2 linked regions of the Homo sapiens genome follow. Changing the gene in region 1 together with any one later gene gives a genetic interaction. Each region holds a gene or a part of one and is shown in the gene's direction. Other genes may lie near its edges.

Evidence for each region. Genes that interact genetically often act in the same process or in processes that back each other up.
Region 2: changes in LARS2 (region 1) and NTRK1 together harm fitness less than expected from each alone (positive genetic interaction), as found in Homo sapiens cells (one large-scale study listed by BioGRID).

What each region holds. Positions count from the first base shown.
Region 1 is NC_000003.12:45,391,576-45,395,075, forward strand, and holds part of LARS2 (leucine--tRNA ligase, mitochondrial), read left to right. Parts: intron 1-7; 5' UTR 8-73; intron 74-2,857; 5' UTR 2,858-2,878; coding exon 2,879-3,112; intron 3,113-3,500.
Region 2 is NC_000001.11:156,867,365-156,870,864, forward strand, and holds part of NTRK1 (high affinity nerve growth factor receptor isoform 2 precursor), read left to right. Parts: intron 1-739; coding exon 740-885; intron 886-1,140; coding exon 1,141-1,283; intron 1,284-3,500. UniProt on the Homo sapiens protein: Receptor tyrosine kinase involved in the development and the maturation of the central and peripheral nervous systems through regulation of proliferation, differentiation and survival of sympathetic and nervous neurons.

The sequences.
Region 1 (3,500 bases):
TTTTCAGATCCAGACCTACAGATAAAAAACATTATTTAATCTATCTGGGATTTACTCCGGCTTATGATTTGAGGTGGGGCTCTAATTTTAAGTTTTTCTCTTATTTGTTGAATAATCTATTACTATCTAATCTGCTCCTGCTTTTTTAAAAAAATGAACTTTAAATGCTTTTAAATACCCAGATCTGTTTCAGGATTCTCTAGTTCACTGGTTTATTTAAGCAAAGCAGAGGTCATTAGTAAGCCAGGTATTATGTGAACATTTTTAGAAAGCTTATTCTTGTTGTGTAGACAGACAGTGTAGGCAGAGCAGTTCAAGTCACTGTATTTTATAATTTTGTTGTGCCCTTTTGTTTCTATTTGAGAGGATAGCCCAGAACACTCCTTAGGTGTTCTTTGGGGATGCTGTCTAGGAGAGAAGTGGCAAGCATCCATCTATGTGTCCTCTGCTAAACAGGCGTTCTTTGGCTTGCAAAGGTATGAAAGTATTGACTTGGCAAGAGAACCATAAAATCTGTGACTTCTATATAATTAGGGAGTTCTAATTATAGCAACCTAAGCCCTAAAAATATATGCAATTGCCTTAAGTGTACAAAGCGTATGTATATTAGGTCAGTCATATGGAATTGCTAACATTTAACCAATTTCATATAGTTCAAATGCCTGTAATCAGATCTGTGTACTTTAAAATAGCCAAGCCCAACTAATAGAGAGATTTCTTTTTTATCTTTTTTTTTTTTTTTTTGAGATGGAGTCTTGTTTTGTCGCCCAGGCTCTGGAGTGCAGTGGCGCTCACTGCAACCTCTGCCTCCCAGGTTCAAGTTATTCCTCTGCCTCAGCCACCCTAGTAGCTAGGATTACAGATGCACGTCACCATGCCCAGCTAATTTTTGTATTTTTAGTAGAGAAGGGGTTTTGCCATGTTGGCCAGATTGGTCTCGAACTCCTGACCTCAGGTGATCCGCCTGCCTCAGCCTCCCAGAATGCTGGTGTTACAGACGTGAACCATTGCCCGTGGCCTAAGAGAGATTTTTTTTTTTAAGTCTGCACTTTATTCTATCCCTGAAGAAGCAAGAGGTGTTTAATGTAGTGAGAACTGATAATGTCAATGACTTTGGCAGACCAACTTGTAAGATGCCCACATTATGTTGCTGTCTTATGTGAGTTTGAAACTCACTGTTATAAGCCTATATTGACCTTCCTGGCAACATTTGTGTTCTAGTACCTTTGTGAAACAGGCCAAATCCTGATAGAAGTGGAATTTTGAGAGAATCAAAGAACATCAGCTTAGAGTGCCGGGTTTCTTTATTTCTCTCTGGTTTTGAAAAGATCTGTTGTCATCTGTTTTTTCACTGTAGCACTTCTTGAATGCTGTTATGCCAGAAGGAGAAAGTTTAGGCTATTTAGTCTAGTATTTATATCTTAAATATTTGATAAAAATCTCACCTCAACCCTTTGAATAGCAATAAAACATGAAACTTCTTCAGTGAGGTCATTTCCAGTATTTACCTGTGGAAGAAGCCAACGAAACATTAAAATTGGATTTTGAATCACAACTGGATATCCTGGTAGGCCCCAACCTATGAGTTGTATTTCAAAAAATAGCACTCACCGTGACCACATGTTATATATTTTTGTTTCTCATCTGCCTCCCTTATTGTTTGTTTCTTATCTGCTTCCCTGCTAGTATGTAATAAGTGCTACGAAAGAAGGGACTCTGGGCCAGGTGTGGTGGCTCACGCCTATAATCCTAGCACTTTGGGAGGCCAAGGTGGGTGGATCATGAGGTCAGCAGTTCGACACCAACCTGGCCAACATGGTGAAACCCCATCTCCACTAAAAATACGAAAATTAGCCGGGCATGTTGGTGCATGCCTATAATCCCAGCTACTCAGGAGGCTGAGGCAGGAGAATTGCTTGAACCCAGGAGGTGGAGGTTGCAGTGAGCCAAGATCATGCCATTGCACTTCAGCCTGGGCAATAGAGCGAGACTCTGTCTCAAAAAAGAAAAAAAAACAGAGAAAGAAAGAAGGGACTCTGTTTGTGTTTACTGCTATATTCCCAGTACTTAGAACAACGTGTGGGCCTAGTGGTAGTCATTAAATATTTGGTGGTGGCTCACGCCTGTAATCCCAGCACTTTGGTAGGCTAAGGCAGGTAGATCGCTTGAGCCCAGGAGTCAGAGGTTACACTGAGGTATGATTATGCCACTGCACTCCAGCCTGAGTGAAAGAGCAGGACCCTGTCTCTAAAAAGTAAGTAAATAAATAAATAAATATTTGGTAAATGAAGGAGAAACTAAATGAATTAACAGTCTTCTAAATAATGGTTATTTTCTGGTTCAGCCTACAGGGTATATTTAACTCATAATATGTATAAAAATTACTAATAGTAGTTCAGAATTTCTGGCCCTCCTGGGAGGCCTGTATTTAGACCCCTTCTGATATTTGAGCCTAACGCCAACTCAGCATGTGCTTGAGCTCTTCTGAGGCTTGAAGACATAAGAAGTGAAGCCTGCTGGAGAGTCCCTGGGCTGGCCCATGGGGAGGGGAGGGAGGGCACTCCATGCCTTCCATGCAACTTGTGAGGTTGCGCAGGAGCTGGCCAGCTGATGGTCTCCATTTTTTCCTACAGGATTTTTGCATCTTTGATGTTAGGGGTTACTGACCCTTTATATTTTCTATTAAAAAGTTTGTGTTTAGCTCAATTGAATTGCTAAAGTATTCTTTTCAGGGAAAGAAATTATTAAAAGTAAGAGGAAAGCACAGGGCCAGAACACTGGACTGTGCCAAATGGAAAGATAAGCTCTGGGGAGGGTTTGAGGCAGCTCATAGTGTGCTTTCTGCCCTCTTTTTCAGGGCCTTCTCACCTTCTGAAGAATGGCTTCTGTTTGGCAGAGATTGGGTTTTTATGCCTCTCTTCTGAAAAGACAGCTAAATGGTGGGCCAGATGTCATCAAGTGGGAAAGGAGAGTAATTCCCGGATGTACCAGAAGCATCTACAGTGCCACGGGAAAGTGGACAAAAGAGTATACATTGCAGACAAGAAAGGATGTTGAGAAATGGTGGCATCAACGAATAAAAGAACAGGCCTCCAAAATTTCAGAAGCTGATGTGAGTATTCTGAGAGATTCTAAGAGGGTAGAGAAGAGGGGTTGAAGGTTTGGACCCTGGGGTTAGACTACCTGGTTCAAATAAGATATTAAATATGTGACCTTGAACCAAATTGTTGAATTTCTCTGTGCTTCAATTCTCTTATCTGAGATGGAGAGTGATCATAATAGTGCCCACCTGCACTATTGGGAGGGGTAAATGGATTGGGAGGCATAAATGAGGTGATACAAAGGTAGTGTTTACAAGAGTTTCCAATGTGGTGGATGCACACATAGTAATATTGCGCACGAGGTGTATGACAGACAGCAGCAAACCAGGTGTTCTAGAGCAACATTTACTGGGGAAGCTCATCAAAATAGGAGCTCTACCAGATGATGGGTCCTTTGTG
Region 2 (3,500 bases), on another chromosome or scaffold:
CTCCTTGTCACCATGCTGAGAGCCCTTGCCTGGTTTCTCATCCTGGGGAGCCTGGGGTGAGGGAGCCCCATGCATCCCTCAGACGTCAGCTGTCTTGTCTTCCACTTTCTGCATTAGATTTCTTTCATTTTTACGTTATTTTTTCTTTTTGTAGAGTTGGGGTTTTGCCATGTTGCCCAGGCTGATCTTGAACTCCTGGGCTCAAGCCATCCTCCGCCTCGGCCTCCCAAAGTGCCGGGATAACAGGTGTGAGTCACAGCGCCTGGCTTATTTCTTTTCTTTTCTTTCTTTCTTTTCTTTTCTTTTCTTTTTTTTTTTTTATGAGACGGAGTCTCGCTCTGTCACCCAGGCTGGAGTGCAGTGGCACAATCTCATCTCGGCTCACTGCAAGCTCCGCCTCCTGGGTTCACGCCATTCTCCTGCCTCAGCCTCCTGAGTAGGTGGGACTACAGGTGCCCGCCACCATGCCTGGCTAAGTTTTTGCATTTTTAGTAGAGACGGGGTTTCACTGTGTTAGCCAGGATGGTCTCGATCTTCTGACCTTGTGATCCGCCCGCCTCGGCCTCCCAATGGCCTATTTCTTTGAATAACATCCTGTTACTGGAGTCAGAGAGAAAGACCTCTGTGTCCTCCCTTTCACCTGTAGACGGTCCTCCCTGCTGCCTAACTGCTCCCTCTTATCCCCTGTGATCCCTCAGGCCCTTTCCTTGACTCTGTTGGTGTCCCCCATGCCCCCCAGGGTCCTGTCGGGGAACCCTCTGCACTGTTCTTGTGCCCTGCGCTGGCTACAGCGCTGGGAGGAGGAGGGACTGGGCGGAGTGCCTGAACAGAAGCTGCAGTGTCATGGGCAAGGGCCCCTGGCCCACATGCCCAATGCCAGCTGTGGTAGGTGCCGGGTGAGGGAGGTGGTGTAAGGGGGCTGGGGAAGAGACCTACCTGCCTGAGGGAGAGGGCACTGAGCAAGCACTGAAAAGGCCTGGGGAATGGGCACTGGCAAAGGCTGGGGGAAACTGCCTGGGGTGACATCGCCTGGGCTCCAGGTCATTGAGGAGGGTGGGGGAAGGAGCAGCCCCGCAGTAGAGTTCTGGGGCCACTCCCAGCTCTAACACCCCTTGGCCCTCGGGCGTCCTGGGTGGCCAGGTGTGCCCACGCTGAAGGTCCAGGTGCCCAATGCCTCGGTGGATGTGGGGGACGACGTGCTGCTGCGGTGCCAGGTGGAGGGGCGGGGCCTGGAGCAGGCCGGCTGGATCCTCACAGAGCTGGAGCAGTCAGCCACGGTGATGGTGAGAAGACCTTCGCTGGCAGCCCCCAAGAGGTCCAGGCAGAGCACAGGGGACAAAGATGGGGAAAGAGAGACACACTGTGGAGGAAAGAGACAACGAATAAGGAGCACACTGAGGTTGAGGGACGGACAGAGATGGTTTAGACCCACAGGGCTCAGGCCTATGCTCTGGGGCAGCCCAGGGCACGCACACACCCTCAGGGTGGGCACTGACCCAGCAGGGACCCCAGGCTATACTTGAAGCCCCAGGACTTAGAACCCCTTTCTGGGAACATGGTGTTGGCTGCAAGGGAGAGGGTCACAGAAACCTTACATGTTGGAGCTGAGAGGAACCCAACAGACCATCCCTCCCGTACATCACTTTTCTCTCTCCCTTCCTTCCTTCCTTCCTTCCTTCCTTCCTTCCTTCCTTCCTTCCTTCCTTCCTTCCTTCCTTCCTTCCTTTTATGGAGTTTCGCTCTGTTGCCCAGGCTGGAGTGCAGTGGCGCGATCTTGACTCACCGCAACCTCCGCCTCTCGGGTTCAAGCGATTCTGCGATTCTCCTGCCTCAGCCTCCCGAGTAGCTGGGAGTACAGGCACGCGCCACCATGCCCAGCTAATTTTTGTATTTTTAGTAGAGACAGGGTTTCACTACGTTGGCCACGCTGGTCTCAAACTCCTGACCTCGTGATCCACCCACCTCGGCCTCCCAAAGTGCTGGGATTACAGGTGTGAGCCACTGTGCCCGGCAGATCACTTTTCTATATAAGGAAACTGGAACCCAGGGAGGAGGCACAATATCAGTTGTACTGCATCCGGGATGAGTTCTCGGGGGTATCGTGGTCTTTTTTCTGGAGATTCTGGAAGCAGCATCCTCTTGGGCATGTGATGAACGTATTAGTAAGGGAGGCATAGGTCTGGCTCCAGCTCTCTCACTAATTAATTCTGGGAATGACTTTCAGAAAAATCCCTTAATCTGCCTGCACTTTGGTTTTCTTATCTGTAAGCTGAGAAGGTGGACATGATGGCCTTCTGATGTCCTGCCTGCCCCTGGGCGTTCTCTGGCCTCTATCTCTGTTATCCATACATGCCTTTGGACATCTTCCCAGGCCTTACCCTTTGTCCTTAGGCTGGCGATGGGCCGATGAGAGTAGCCACAGGTAACTCAGTCGGCCTTGTTGACGAGGTCAACGGCAGCTGACAATGGGCTGTGCCCACCCAAAAAGCTGGCTCCACCTGGGCAGGAGGAGTGGATATGCAGGGACCAGGAATGTGTGCCTGGGGGGCTGGGAGCATGGTGTTTATTTGGGGAGCCTTCACTTTGGTGGGAGAGTCCACCCCAGAATTGCTGGAGGCCCCTGGAACCATGTTGAGGGAGATGCCACTGGGGCGCTGAGCAGGGGGCTTCAGACATGGTGGAGGGACAACTAGCCACTGAGCAGTTCCTCCCTGCTCCAGAGAGCAAAGCTGCCTAGAGTGAGTAAAAGAAAGGGGACCAGGCAGAGGCCATACCCCTGCATGGAGAGACCTTAGATCAACTCTGTTTGGGGTGATTCCAGGATTTGCTTTCTCTTTGGGAGACTTACATGTTTGCTACCATCTGTGTTTTCTAGAAACTACCTATACAAAAGTCACTCCCTACTGGGCACAGTGGCCCATACCTGTAATCCCAGCACTTTGGGAGGCCAAGGAGGGATAATCACTTGAGACCAGCAGTTTGAGACCAGCCTGGGCAACAAAGCAAGACCCTATCTCTTAAAAAAAATTGCACCCTAAATGGGTTAAATGGAGGAGAAGAGAGGCTGCTCTCCCTCAGTTAGGAGGATAAGGGGTGGCAGACCAGCTCAAGGGGAAGAGTTATTGGCCCCACAGTAGTTGGAGGGGATGGGACAGCCAAGGGAAGCAGAGGGCAGGGCAGGGCTTCCCCTCGAAGTGGCTGGAACCCAGAGCTTGCACAAAAGGCTGGAAACTCTACTGGAACCTTTGAACTCACATATTCCAATGGAAGCCTGGGGAAACCATACCTCCTCTGGCATGTGGTCAGAGGATTCCACATTTATAAAGTTTTCGGATAAATGAGATTTATCCACCACTTCATTATTTTCATTTTGTGAAAATCACTTTCTAAAATGTCAGAAGATAATTTGTCCACCTCTTCAGCTTACAAAACAAACAAAAAACCCACAGTTCAGCAAGATGAAGAATTGTCGTAAGATCATGTAACTTACACATGACAAA